Homo sapiens: one gene and its partner. Each later gene encodes a partner of the first gene's protein in a complex. Each region holds a gene or a part of one and is shown on either strand. Other genes may lie near its edges.

The links.
Region 2: CINP (region 1) and AFG2B share a complex: the UniProt entries of both Homo sapiens proteins name them as parts of the 55LCC heterohexameric ATPase complex.

What each region holds. Positions count from the first base shown.
Region 1 is NC_000014.9:102,352,603-102,359,910, reverse strand, and holds part of CINP (cyclin-dependent kinase 2-interacting protein), read left to right. Parts: intron 1-323; coding exon 324-492; intron 493-1,008; exon of another isoform or gene 1,009-1,112; intron 1,113-4,013; coding exon 4,014-4,143; intron 4,144-7,308. UniProt on the Homo sapiens protein: Component of the DNA replication complex, which interacts with two kinases, CDK2 and CDC7, thereby providing a functional and physical link between CDK2 and CDC7 during firing of the origins of replication.
Region 2 is NC_000015.10:45,419,327-45,422,214, forward strand, and holds the end of AFG2B (ATPase family gene 2 protein homolog B), read left to right. Parts: intron 1-1,716; coding exon 1,717-1,884; 3' UTR 1,885-2,089; downstream 2,090-2,888. UniProt on the Homo sapiens protein: ATP-dependent chaperone part of the 55LCC heterohexameric ATPase complex which is chromatin-associated and promotes replisome proteostasis to maintain replication fork progression and genome stability.

The DNA of each region.
Region 1 (7,308 bases):
TGAAGAGTTTTAGCAGACAGTCACAACTTTACCTTATTTCCAATCTTTGGAAAACAAAGGGCTTAAGGTAAAAACTTTGTGGAGCCATTAAGCTGGAAGAGGATTCAGCTCTATCTGGTGAATTTTAAAATGTTAAAAATATTCTATATTGTCTTCTTCCAGGAACTTTCACATTCATTCAGACTTTGTAGTTTCCACATTTATTTGTCCAGTTGATACAGCATTTCAGATAGTTTTACTGTTGAAAATTATAAGGACATTTGCCCTCCAACTATGATTGTATATTCCATGATAATAATTTTGTTTCTTTTATACCCTATCAGCAAAGACTCTTGGAACTGTAACGCCCAGAAAACCTGTCTTATCTGTCAGTGCAAGAAAAATTAAGGACAATGCGGCTGATTGGCACAATTTAATCCTGAAGTGGGAAACCCTCAATGATGCAGGTTTTACCACTGCAAATAATATTGCCAACTTGAAAATCAGTTTATTGTAAGTACATATTGGTTTTTCATGCTCTAAGTTTTTCACCCTTAATAACTGGGGAAATAATGTGAATAAATTTTAAAATAAAATATTAAGCAAAAAAAGCAAGTGGTAAGATGATACGTGTAAGTATAAATTGTATTGTACATTTTAAATACAAAATTATATTCCATATATATATATATATATATATATATTTAGTTATTTATTTATTTATTTTTTTGGAGATGAAGTCTCACTCTGTTGCCTAGGCTGGAGTGTGATGGCGCGATCTCAGCTCACTGCAACCTCTACCGCCTGGGTTCAAGCAATTCTCCTACCTCAGCCTCCGGAGTAGCTGGGATTACAGGCGCCCGTCACCACACCCAGATAATTTTTGTATTTTTAGTAGAGACGGGCTTTCACCATGTTAGGCTGGTCTCGAACTCCTGACCTTACGTGATCCACCTGCCTCAGCCTCCCAAAGTGCTGTGTGAGCCACCGTGCCTGGCTATTCTGATTTTTAAAACCACAGATTCTTTGATTCTTTTGTAGTTCATAGGCATAATGATTGGGTTTTCATGCTCATGTATGACCTGTGCCTTCCTCAAACTTTGCTATGATGTTGGCACATTACCTAGCTGATATGGAAAAAACTACCATGAATTCTTTTCATCCATTTTTGGATTTTACGTAAACAAAAAACATATGTTATTGTTTCCTTTATATCTCACTTTCTTTTTCTATTTTTTATTTTTTATTTTTGGAGACGAGTCTCACTCTATCCCCCAGGCTGGAGTGCAATGGCGTGATCTTGGCTCACTCTAACTTCTGCCTGTCAGGTTCAAGTGGTTCTCCTGTCTCAGCCTCCTGAGTAGCTAGAATTACAGATACCTGCCACCATGCCCGGCTAATTTTTGTATGTTTAGTAGAGACAGAGTTTCACCATGTTGGCCAGGCTAGTCTCAAACTCCTGACCTCAAGTGATCTGCCCACCTTGGCCTCCCTAAATGCCGGTATTACAGGCATGAGCCACTGCGCCCAGCCATGTCTCACTGTCTTTCAACATGGAAGCCATGCGTGTAATGTAGAGCCACTATTCTGGTTCTGTTCTTTCTCATTGCTGTTTAATAGTGTTTACCCACATTAGACCTCTCACACTGGTTTATCAACTAAGTTATATAATATTCTCAATCTTTTGTTGTCATTTCAACAGTGTGCACAGTGTCTTTCCCAGGAATAGATTCCATCTCAAGAAACCACCTTCTTTGCTCATCCATAAGAAACAATTCCTTATCTGTTCAAGTTTTCTCATGAGATTGCAGCAATTCAGTTCCATCTTCAGACCCCACTTCCAGTTCTGGTTCTCTTGCTTTTTCCACTGGCAGAGTAGATTTAACATCATTCTTAAGGGCCCTAGGAATTTGAGAATGGTAAATGAGCATTGGATTCAACTTAAAGTCACTAACTGCAATATCCCCTAATAAGAGGGTGAGCCTGTCTCTTGAAGCTTTGAAGCCTGTCATTGACTTCTCTGTAGTTGTGAATGTCTTGGATGGCATGTTCTTCTAATAGAAGGCTGTTTCATCTACACTGAAAATCTGTTGTATCATGTAGCCACCTTCATCACTGATCTTAAGTAGATCTTCTGGATAACTTGCTCCAGCTTCTACATTAGCGCTTGCAGCTTCACCTTGCACTTTTATGTTATGGAGATGGCTTTTGTCCTTAAACCTCATGAACCAAATCCTGCTATCTCAAACTTTTCTTCTGTAACTTCCTCATATCTCTCAGCCTTCACAGAATTGAAGAGAGTTAGGGTCCTGCTGTGGATTAGGCTTTGACTTAAGGGAATGCTGTGTCTGGTTTGATCTTCTATCCAGACCACTCAAACTTTCTCCATATCCACACTAAGGCTGTTTCACTCATCATTCACATGTTCACTGGAGTAGCACCTTTAATTTTCTTCAGTAACTTTTCCTTTGCCTTCACAACTTGGCCAACTGTTTGGCACAAGAGGCCTGGTTTTCAGCTTATCTTAGCTTTTTTTTTTTTTTTTTTGTAGAGATGGAGTCTCGCTCTGTCGCTCAGGCTGGAGTGCAATGGTGCAATCTTGGCTCACTGCAACCTCTGCCTCCCGGGTTCAAGCAATTCTCCTGCCTTTGCCTCCCAAGTAGCTGGGACTACAGGTGCACACCGCCACGCCCAGCTAATTTCTTTTGTATTTTAGTAGAGACGGAGTTTCACATGTTGCCCAGGCTGGTCTTGAATTCCTGAGCTCAGGCAATCTGCCCGCCTTGGCCTCCCAAAGTGCTAGGATTACAGGCGTGAGCCACCGCACCTGGCCCCTTATCTGAGCTTTTGACATGCCTTCCTCACTAAGCTTAATCATTTCTAGCTTTTAATTTTTTTGTTTCTTAAATTGGCCAAAGTATAGCTTTTGATTTAAAATGAGAGATATGCAACTCTTCCTTTCACTTGTACACTTAGAGGCCAATGTAGGGCTATTAATTGGGTTGATTTCAGTATCCTCCTATTTCAGGGAACAGGGAGGCCCAAGGAGATGGGGAGAAAGGGGAGCAGCCGGTCAGTGGAGCAGTCAGAACACACAACATCCATTCATTAAGCTTGCCGTTATATATGCACATGGTTCATGGCACCTCAAAACAATTAAACTAGCAATATCAAAGATTACCAATCACAGATCATAGACATAATAATGAAAAAGTTTGAAATATTGTAAGAATTACCAAAATATGATAGAGAGACATGAAGTAAGCACATGCTGTTGGCAAAATGGTGCTGATTGACTTGCTCTACATACAGAGGGTTGCCACAAACCTTCAATTTGTAAAAAATGCATTATCTATGAAACTGAATAAGGTGAAGCACAATAAAATGAGGCGTGCCTATATTCCTGGATTGTGAACTCTTTGAGGAAATGATCCATGTCTTATTCATCTTTGTACATCCAGCACCATGCCCTATGCCAAGGATGCCACACCGCTGAATGGTGTTTTTTTTTTTTTTGAGACAGTCTTGCTCTTTTGTGCAGGCTGAGTGCAGTGGTGCTATAATGGCTCACTGCAGCCTTGACTTCCTGGGCTTAAGTGATCCTCCCACCTGAGCCTCCTAAGTAGCTGGGACCACATACGTGTCCCACCATGCCCAGCTAATTTTTACTTTTAATTTTTGTGGAGATGAGGTCTCACTGTGTTGCCCAGGCTGGACTCAGACTCCTGGACTCAAGCAGTCCTCCCGCGTCCATCCCTCAAAGTGTTGGGATTACAGGCATGAGCCACCAAAACCGGCTGTCACATGGCTGAATTTAACTGACTTATTTTGGTGCAAAATTGAGTGACCAATGGACATATTCATTGCACATATAAATAATAACTGCATTTGTATCATAATGATATGAAAGAACAATGCTTATGCAAAATGTCCCACGTAACTATGTGGATATAGAGGTTTGTAGAATTTATTATAAGGAAATAAGGCAAGCTTAAAGAGTATATTTTGTACACATTATTTTCTATTTTGTTTAGGAATAAAGACAAGATAGAACTAGACAGCAGCAGCCCAGCCTCGAAGGAAAATGAAGAAAAGGTGTGTCTGGAATATAACGAGGAACTGGAGAAGCTGTGTGAGGAACTGCAGGCCACCTTGGATGGGTTGGTAAGACATAAAGACGCAGGCCACTTGTGGTCACTGTCACTGAATCCGATGGACGTATTTGGGGTTTGCTTGACCATTGGCCATCACTTACTCCTTCTCAGTCTCCTCTGATGTTCTCTTCCTCTGCCTGCTGCGTAAACCTTAATGTTCCCCAAGATGCTGTCTTAGACACTCACTCCTCCTGTGCGTCATCCGGGGAAATGTCACCCACTTTCAGGGCTCATCACATAGTAAATTTTTTTTTTTTTTCCATGATATGGAGTCTTGCTTTGTCGCCCAGGCTGGAGTGCAATGGCGTGATCTTGGCTCACCGCAAACTCCGCCTCCTGGGCTCAAGCGATTCTCCTGTCTCAGCCTCCAGAGTAGCTGGGACTACAGGCGTCCGCCACCATGCCTGGCTAATTTTTGCATTTTTAGTTGAGACAGGGTTTCACCATATTGGTCAGGCTGATCTCAAACTCCTGACCTCAGGTGATCCACCTGCTGGCCTCCCAAAGGGCTGGGATTACAGGCATGAGCTACCACGCCCAGCCACAGAGTAAATATTTTAGGCTTCCAGGGCCAGCCAGTCTCTATCTCAGCTACTCATCTCTGCCACATAGGACTAAACAGCCATAGATAATATATGCGTAAATGGATGTGGCTGCATTCCATGAAAACTTTATCTTTGTTTTTTGGATTTTCTTTTTTTTTTTTTTTGAGATGGAGTCTCATTCTGATACCCAGGGTGGAGTACAGTAGCATGATCTTGGCTCACTGCAAACTCCGCCTCCCAGGTACAAGTGATTCTGCTGCCTTAGCCTCCCAGGTAGCTGGGATTACAGGCTCGTGCCACCACATGAGCTAATTTTTGTATTTTTAGTAGAGACAGCATTTCACCATGTTGACCAGGCTGGTCTCGAACTCCTGACCTCAAGTGATCAGCCTGCCTTGGCCTCCCAAACTGCTGGGATTACAGGCGTGAGTCACCGCACCTGGCCTTTTTTGTTTTTGTTTTTGTTTTTTTTGAGACAGGGCCTCACTCTGCCACTGAGGCTGGATGGAGTGCAGTGGCGAGATCTTGGCTCACTGCAACCTCCGCCTCCTGGGTTCAAGCAATTCTTGTGCCTCAACCTTCCACATAGCTGGGATCGCAGGTGTGCGCCACCATGCCCAGCTAATTGTTGTATTTTTAGTAGAGATGGGGTTTCACCATGTTGGCCAGGCTGGTCTCGAAGTCCTGGCCTCAAGTGATCCACCCACCTCAGCCTCCCAAAGTGTTGGGATTACAGGCGTGAGCCACCATGTTCGTCCAGGAAATCTTTATCTTTGGACACCGAAATTAGAATTTTGTATAATTTTTATGAGTCACAATCACTATTGTCCTTTTGGTTATTTTCAACCATTTAAAAATGTAAAAACCATCTTAGCTTATGGGCCATACAGAAATAGGCTATGGGCCAGAATTGACCTGTGTTCCAGGGATAGTTTGCCCATCCCTGATACAGCACGTAAGAGACTAAAGTGTTTGTTTAATGAACTAATAACTAAATTTCAATACCTACCATACTGGCCACCAGATGTGAAGATAACACCACCTTATTTCTTTGCTAGGCACAGGAAATCAGGTTTTACACATATTTGAACTTGGATAACTGAAGCTTACCCATAAACATTTAAGATCTTTATATTTTCACCTTTTTGTTTGTTTGGAGACAAGGTCTCGCTGTGGAATGCAGTAGTATGATCACAGCTCACTGCAGCCTTTACTTCCTGGGCTTAAGTGATCTTCTTGCCTCAGCCTCCCGAGTAGCTGGGACTACAAGCATGAACCATCATGCCCGGCTAATTTTTAAAATTCGTTTGTACAGACGGGGTTCTCATGTTGGCCAGGCTGGTCTCGAACTCCTGACATGAAGTGATCTTCCCACCTTGGCCTCCCAAAGTGCTGGGATCACAGGTGTGAGCCCTGGCGCCCTGCCTTAGCTTTTCCGTCATGTCTTGTTTTGGCTTCAGGATCCTGTATGACATCGAGTCCCCTTGTTTCCTCAGGCTCCTTTTGGCCGTGACAGTTTCTCAGACTTCCCTGTTTTTGATGACTTTGACAATGTTGAGGGATACTGGTCAGGTATTTTGTAGAACATCATGAGATTTATCTGATGTTTTTCTCCTAATTAGACTGAGGTTACGGGTTTTGTTCAGAGGAGGACCACAGAAGTAAAGTGCCATTTCTATCATGTCATATCAAGGGCACGTACTGGATATACTGTCATCAGGACTTTTCTTTGGGTCCCACCTATTGCCCGGGCTGGTCTCAAACTCCTGGGCTCAAGCAGTGCTCCCACCTCAGCCTCCCAAAGTGCTGGGATTCCAGGCGTGAGCCACTGTGCACAGCCAGGACTTTCCACTGCTGAAGTTGACCTTGATCACCTGGCTGGGCAGTGTTTCCAGGTTCCTCTGCTGTGACGTTGCTCTTTCTCCTCCTCCCACGCTGTGCTCTTTGGCAGGAAGTCACTATGCATAGCCCACACCTGGGGGTAGGGACGTATTCACCACCTGCTTGAGGGTGCAGTATCTACATAAATTATTTGGAATTATTCTGCGTGGGAGATTTGTTCCCTCCCTCCCATTTGTTAATTTTTTTTTTTTTTGAGATGGAGTTTCACTCTTGTTGCCCAGGCTGGAGTGCAGTGGGGTGATCTCTGCCCACTGCAACCTCTGCCTCCTGGGTTCAAGTGATTCTCCTGTCTCAGCTTCCCAAGTAGCTGGGATTACAGGTGCCTGCCACCACACCCAGCTAATTGTTGTATTTTTATTTGTTTTTTTTTAATTTTTGTTTTGGCCAGGCGCAGTGGCTCATGCCTGTAATCCCAGCACTCTAGGAGGCCGAGGCAGGTGGATCACCTGAGGTCAAGAGTTTGAGACCAGCATGGCCAACATAGTGAAACCCCATCTCTACTAAAAATACAAAAAATTAGCTGGGGGTGGTGGCAGGTGCCTGCAATCCCAGCTACTTGGGAGGCTGAGGCGGGAGAATCACTTTCGGAGGTTGCAGTTAGCCGAGATCAAGCCACTGCACTCCAGTCTGGGCCACAGAGTGAGACTCCGTGTCAAAAAAAAGAAAAAAAGAAAAAGAAAAGTGGTTTGGGAATAAGTTCTCATTCTATGTTCAAAACCAAAAGTTGA
Region 2 (2,888 bases), on another chromosome or scaffold:
CGTGGGGGACTAGTAGTCCCAGCTACTTGGGAGGGGGAGATGGGAGGATTGCTTGAGCCTGGGAAGCGAAGGTTGCAGTAAGATGAGATCGTGCCGCTGCACTCCAGCCTGGGTGACAGAGTGAGACTCTGTCTCTTAGGAAAAAAAAAAAGCTGAAGGAGTAGACAATGGCCAGGACACACGGGTCCTTGTAAACCACTCTAAGATACCCTTTTTCGTAAACTTTTACTAAATATAACATTCAGAAAAATGCACGGATCATAAGGGTACAGTTCATTGAATTAAAGTGATCACATTTTTATAATCACTACTTATGTCAAGAAATAGAACATTATAAACACCCCAGAATCTTCCTTTGGGCCCTTTCCCAACCTCTGTCACCTACCTTCTTCCAAAAGAGAACTATTGGCTGGGCTTAGTGACTCATGCCTGTAATCCCAGCATTTTGTTGGGGCCAAGGCAGGAGGATCATCTGAGCCCAGGAGTTGAGACCAACCTGGGCAACATGGGGAGACCCTGTCTCTACAAAAACTTTTAAAAAATTGTCCCAGCTACTCAGGAGGCTGAGGTGGGAGGATCACTTGAGCCTGGAGGTCAAGGCTGTAGTGAGCCATGATTGTGTCACTGTACTTCTGCCTGGGTGACAGAGCAAGACTCTGTCCCCCCCCCCCAAAAAAAAAAAAAAAAACAAAAAACAAAACAAAAGGGAACCACTCTCCTGACTAACAACAGTGGGGATTAGTTTTGTCTGCTTTTGAACTTTATATGAATGGAAGCATGTGGCATATGTTATTTTCTGTCTGGTTCTTTAACCTAAAAAGAAATTTATCCATAGTTTTGTGTGTAGCATAGTTTATAATATTCTAGTATATGAATATTCTACATTTGTTTATCCATTCTTTTATTTTGGAATATCTGGGTTTCTACTTTTTTGCTATTATGAGTTATGCTGCTGTGAACAGCCTTGTACATGTCTCTTAGTTCCCGTGTCTATTTATGTCTATTTGTAAACATAGTTAGCTACAAGGAGAATTGCTGGGTCATAGGGTATGTGTTTGATCTATTCCTTTATAATCAGTGCTGGCTGAAGACTCTTCCCTACTTAACGATCAGGAAGATATTCTCTCATCTTTAAAAATACATATGGGTTCATAAAATACATATTAATCTGCAACTTGCCTTTTCTTTCTTCTCATTTAATGCTTTCTTTTTTCCCATTAATGTAAAGAGGTTATGGTCTGCAAAGTGGATTTCTAATCACCTTATTTAACTTTTTAGCATAATGTTTTTAGTGACATGAAAATTAGAATCCTATGAAGTGAGGCTGAGATTTTCCATTCAGAGTTTAAAGTATTACCATATATTGTTAAAAAAAAAAGAAAAGAAGCCAGGCGCTGTGGCTCACACCTGTAATCCCAGCACTTTGGGAGGCTGAAGCAGGTGGATCATGAGGTCAGGAGTTCAAGATGAGCCCGGCCAACATGGTGAAACCCTGTCTCTACTAAAAATACAAAAATTAGTTGGGCGTGGTGGCAGCCTTCTGTAATCCCAGCTACTTGGGAGGCTGAGGCAGGAGAATTGCTTGAAACCAGAAGACGGAGGTTGCAGTGAGTCCAGATCGTGCCACTGCACTCCAGCCTGGGCAATAAGAGCAAAACTCCATCTCAAAGAAAAAAAAGCAAAAGAAATTGTTTTCTATTGCTTGTCTCTTAATAGGCTGCTTTGCTGGCTCTGCAAGAAAATGGACTAGACGCAACTACAGTGAAACAAGAGCACTTTCTAAAATCACTTAAGACTGTAAAACCGTCGTTAAGTTGCAAGGACTTGGCTTTATATGAAAACTTATTTAAGAAAGAAGGATTTTCTAACGTGGAAGGTATTTAAAAATCACCTTAAACTCTTGTTCAGTTCACATTAATTGAAATGTGAACTTGCCTGTCGTTTGCAACTTCACACTTTTAGAATTTGTGTTTATATTTCCTGTAAGTGAATAAATAAAACAAAACAAAACAAAAAAAACTTGTGCCTGATAAGCTAAGGCTCATTTATTTTTAAAAGGCATATTAAATAAAATACTGTAATTTAGGAAGAAAGTGTGTGTGTGTTGATTTTGTTGTAAGGGGTGGTTGGTTTTGGGTGATTGCTTTTTTATTAAACCCTGAAATAATTTCATACTTACAGAAAAGTTGCAAAAATAGTACAAAGAATTTTTATGTGCTCAAACCCAGATTCACTAATCTTTAACATTTTGCCACATTTGCTTTCTCTGTCTTCCCCACCCCTTGTACATATACACATACACACATTTTTTTTTGAGTGGTTTGAGAATAGATTATATACATAATGTCCCTTTCCCCCCTTAATACTTGAGTGTGTATTTGTTACAAATAAGGTTATTATATGACCAAATTCAGCAAATTTAATACTGACACAGTATTTTAATCTATCATCCAGTGAATTTCATGTATGGTCACAATAACGTCCTATATGGTAATTTTCCCCATTACAGGATCCAGTCTAGGATCACACATTTCATTTAGTCACCATGTCTCTTTAGCCTCTTAACTTGAAACAGTGTCTCAATCTTTCTTGACCCTGACATTTTTGAAGAGTATAGACCAATTATTTTATTGAGCAGTTCATTCCTGGACTTGTAGTTGATGTTTTATCATGGTAGATTCAGGTTATGTATTACCAGTCGAGCACTACATAGGGGCATTGTATTCTCAGAGTATCACAGCTGAAGGCACATGACATCTGTACCTTCTTGATAATGTTAATTTTGATCATTTGTTGGCAGTATTGTCTGGTTTCTCCACTATACTGCTATTTTTCGTTTTGTAGTTGTAAGTAGTTAAAAGTTTTTAAAGAGACAGGTTACATGTACA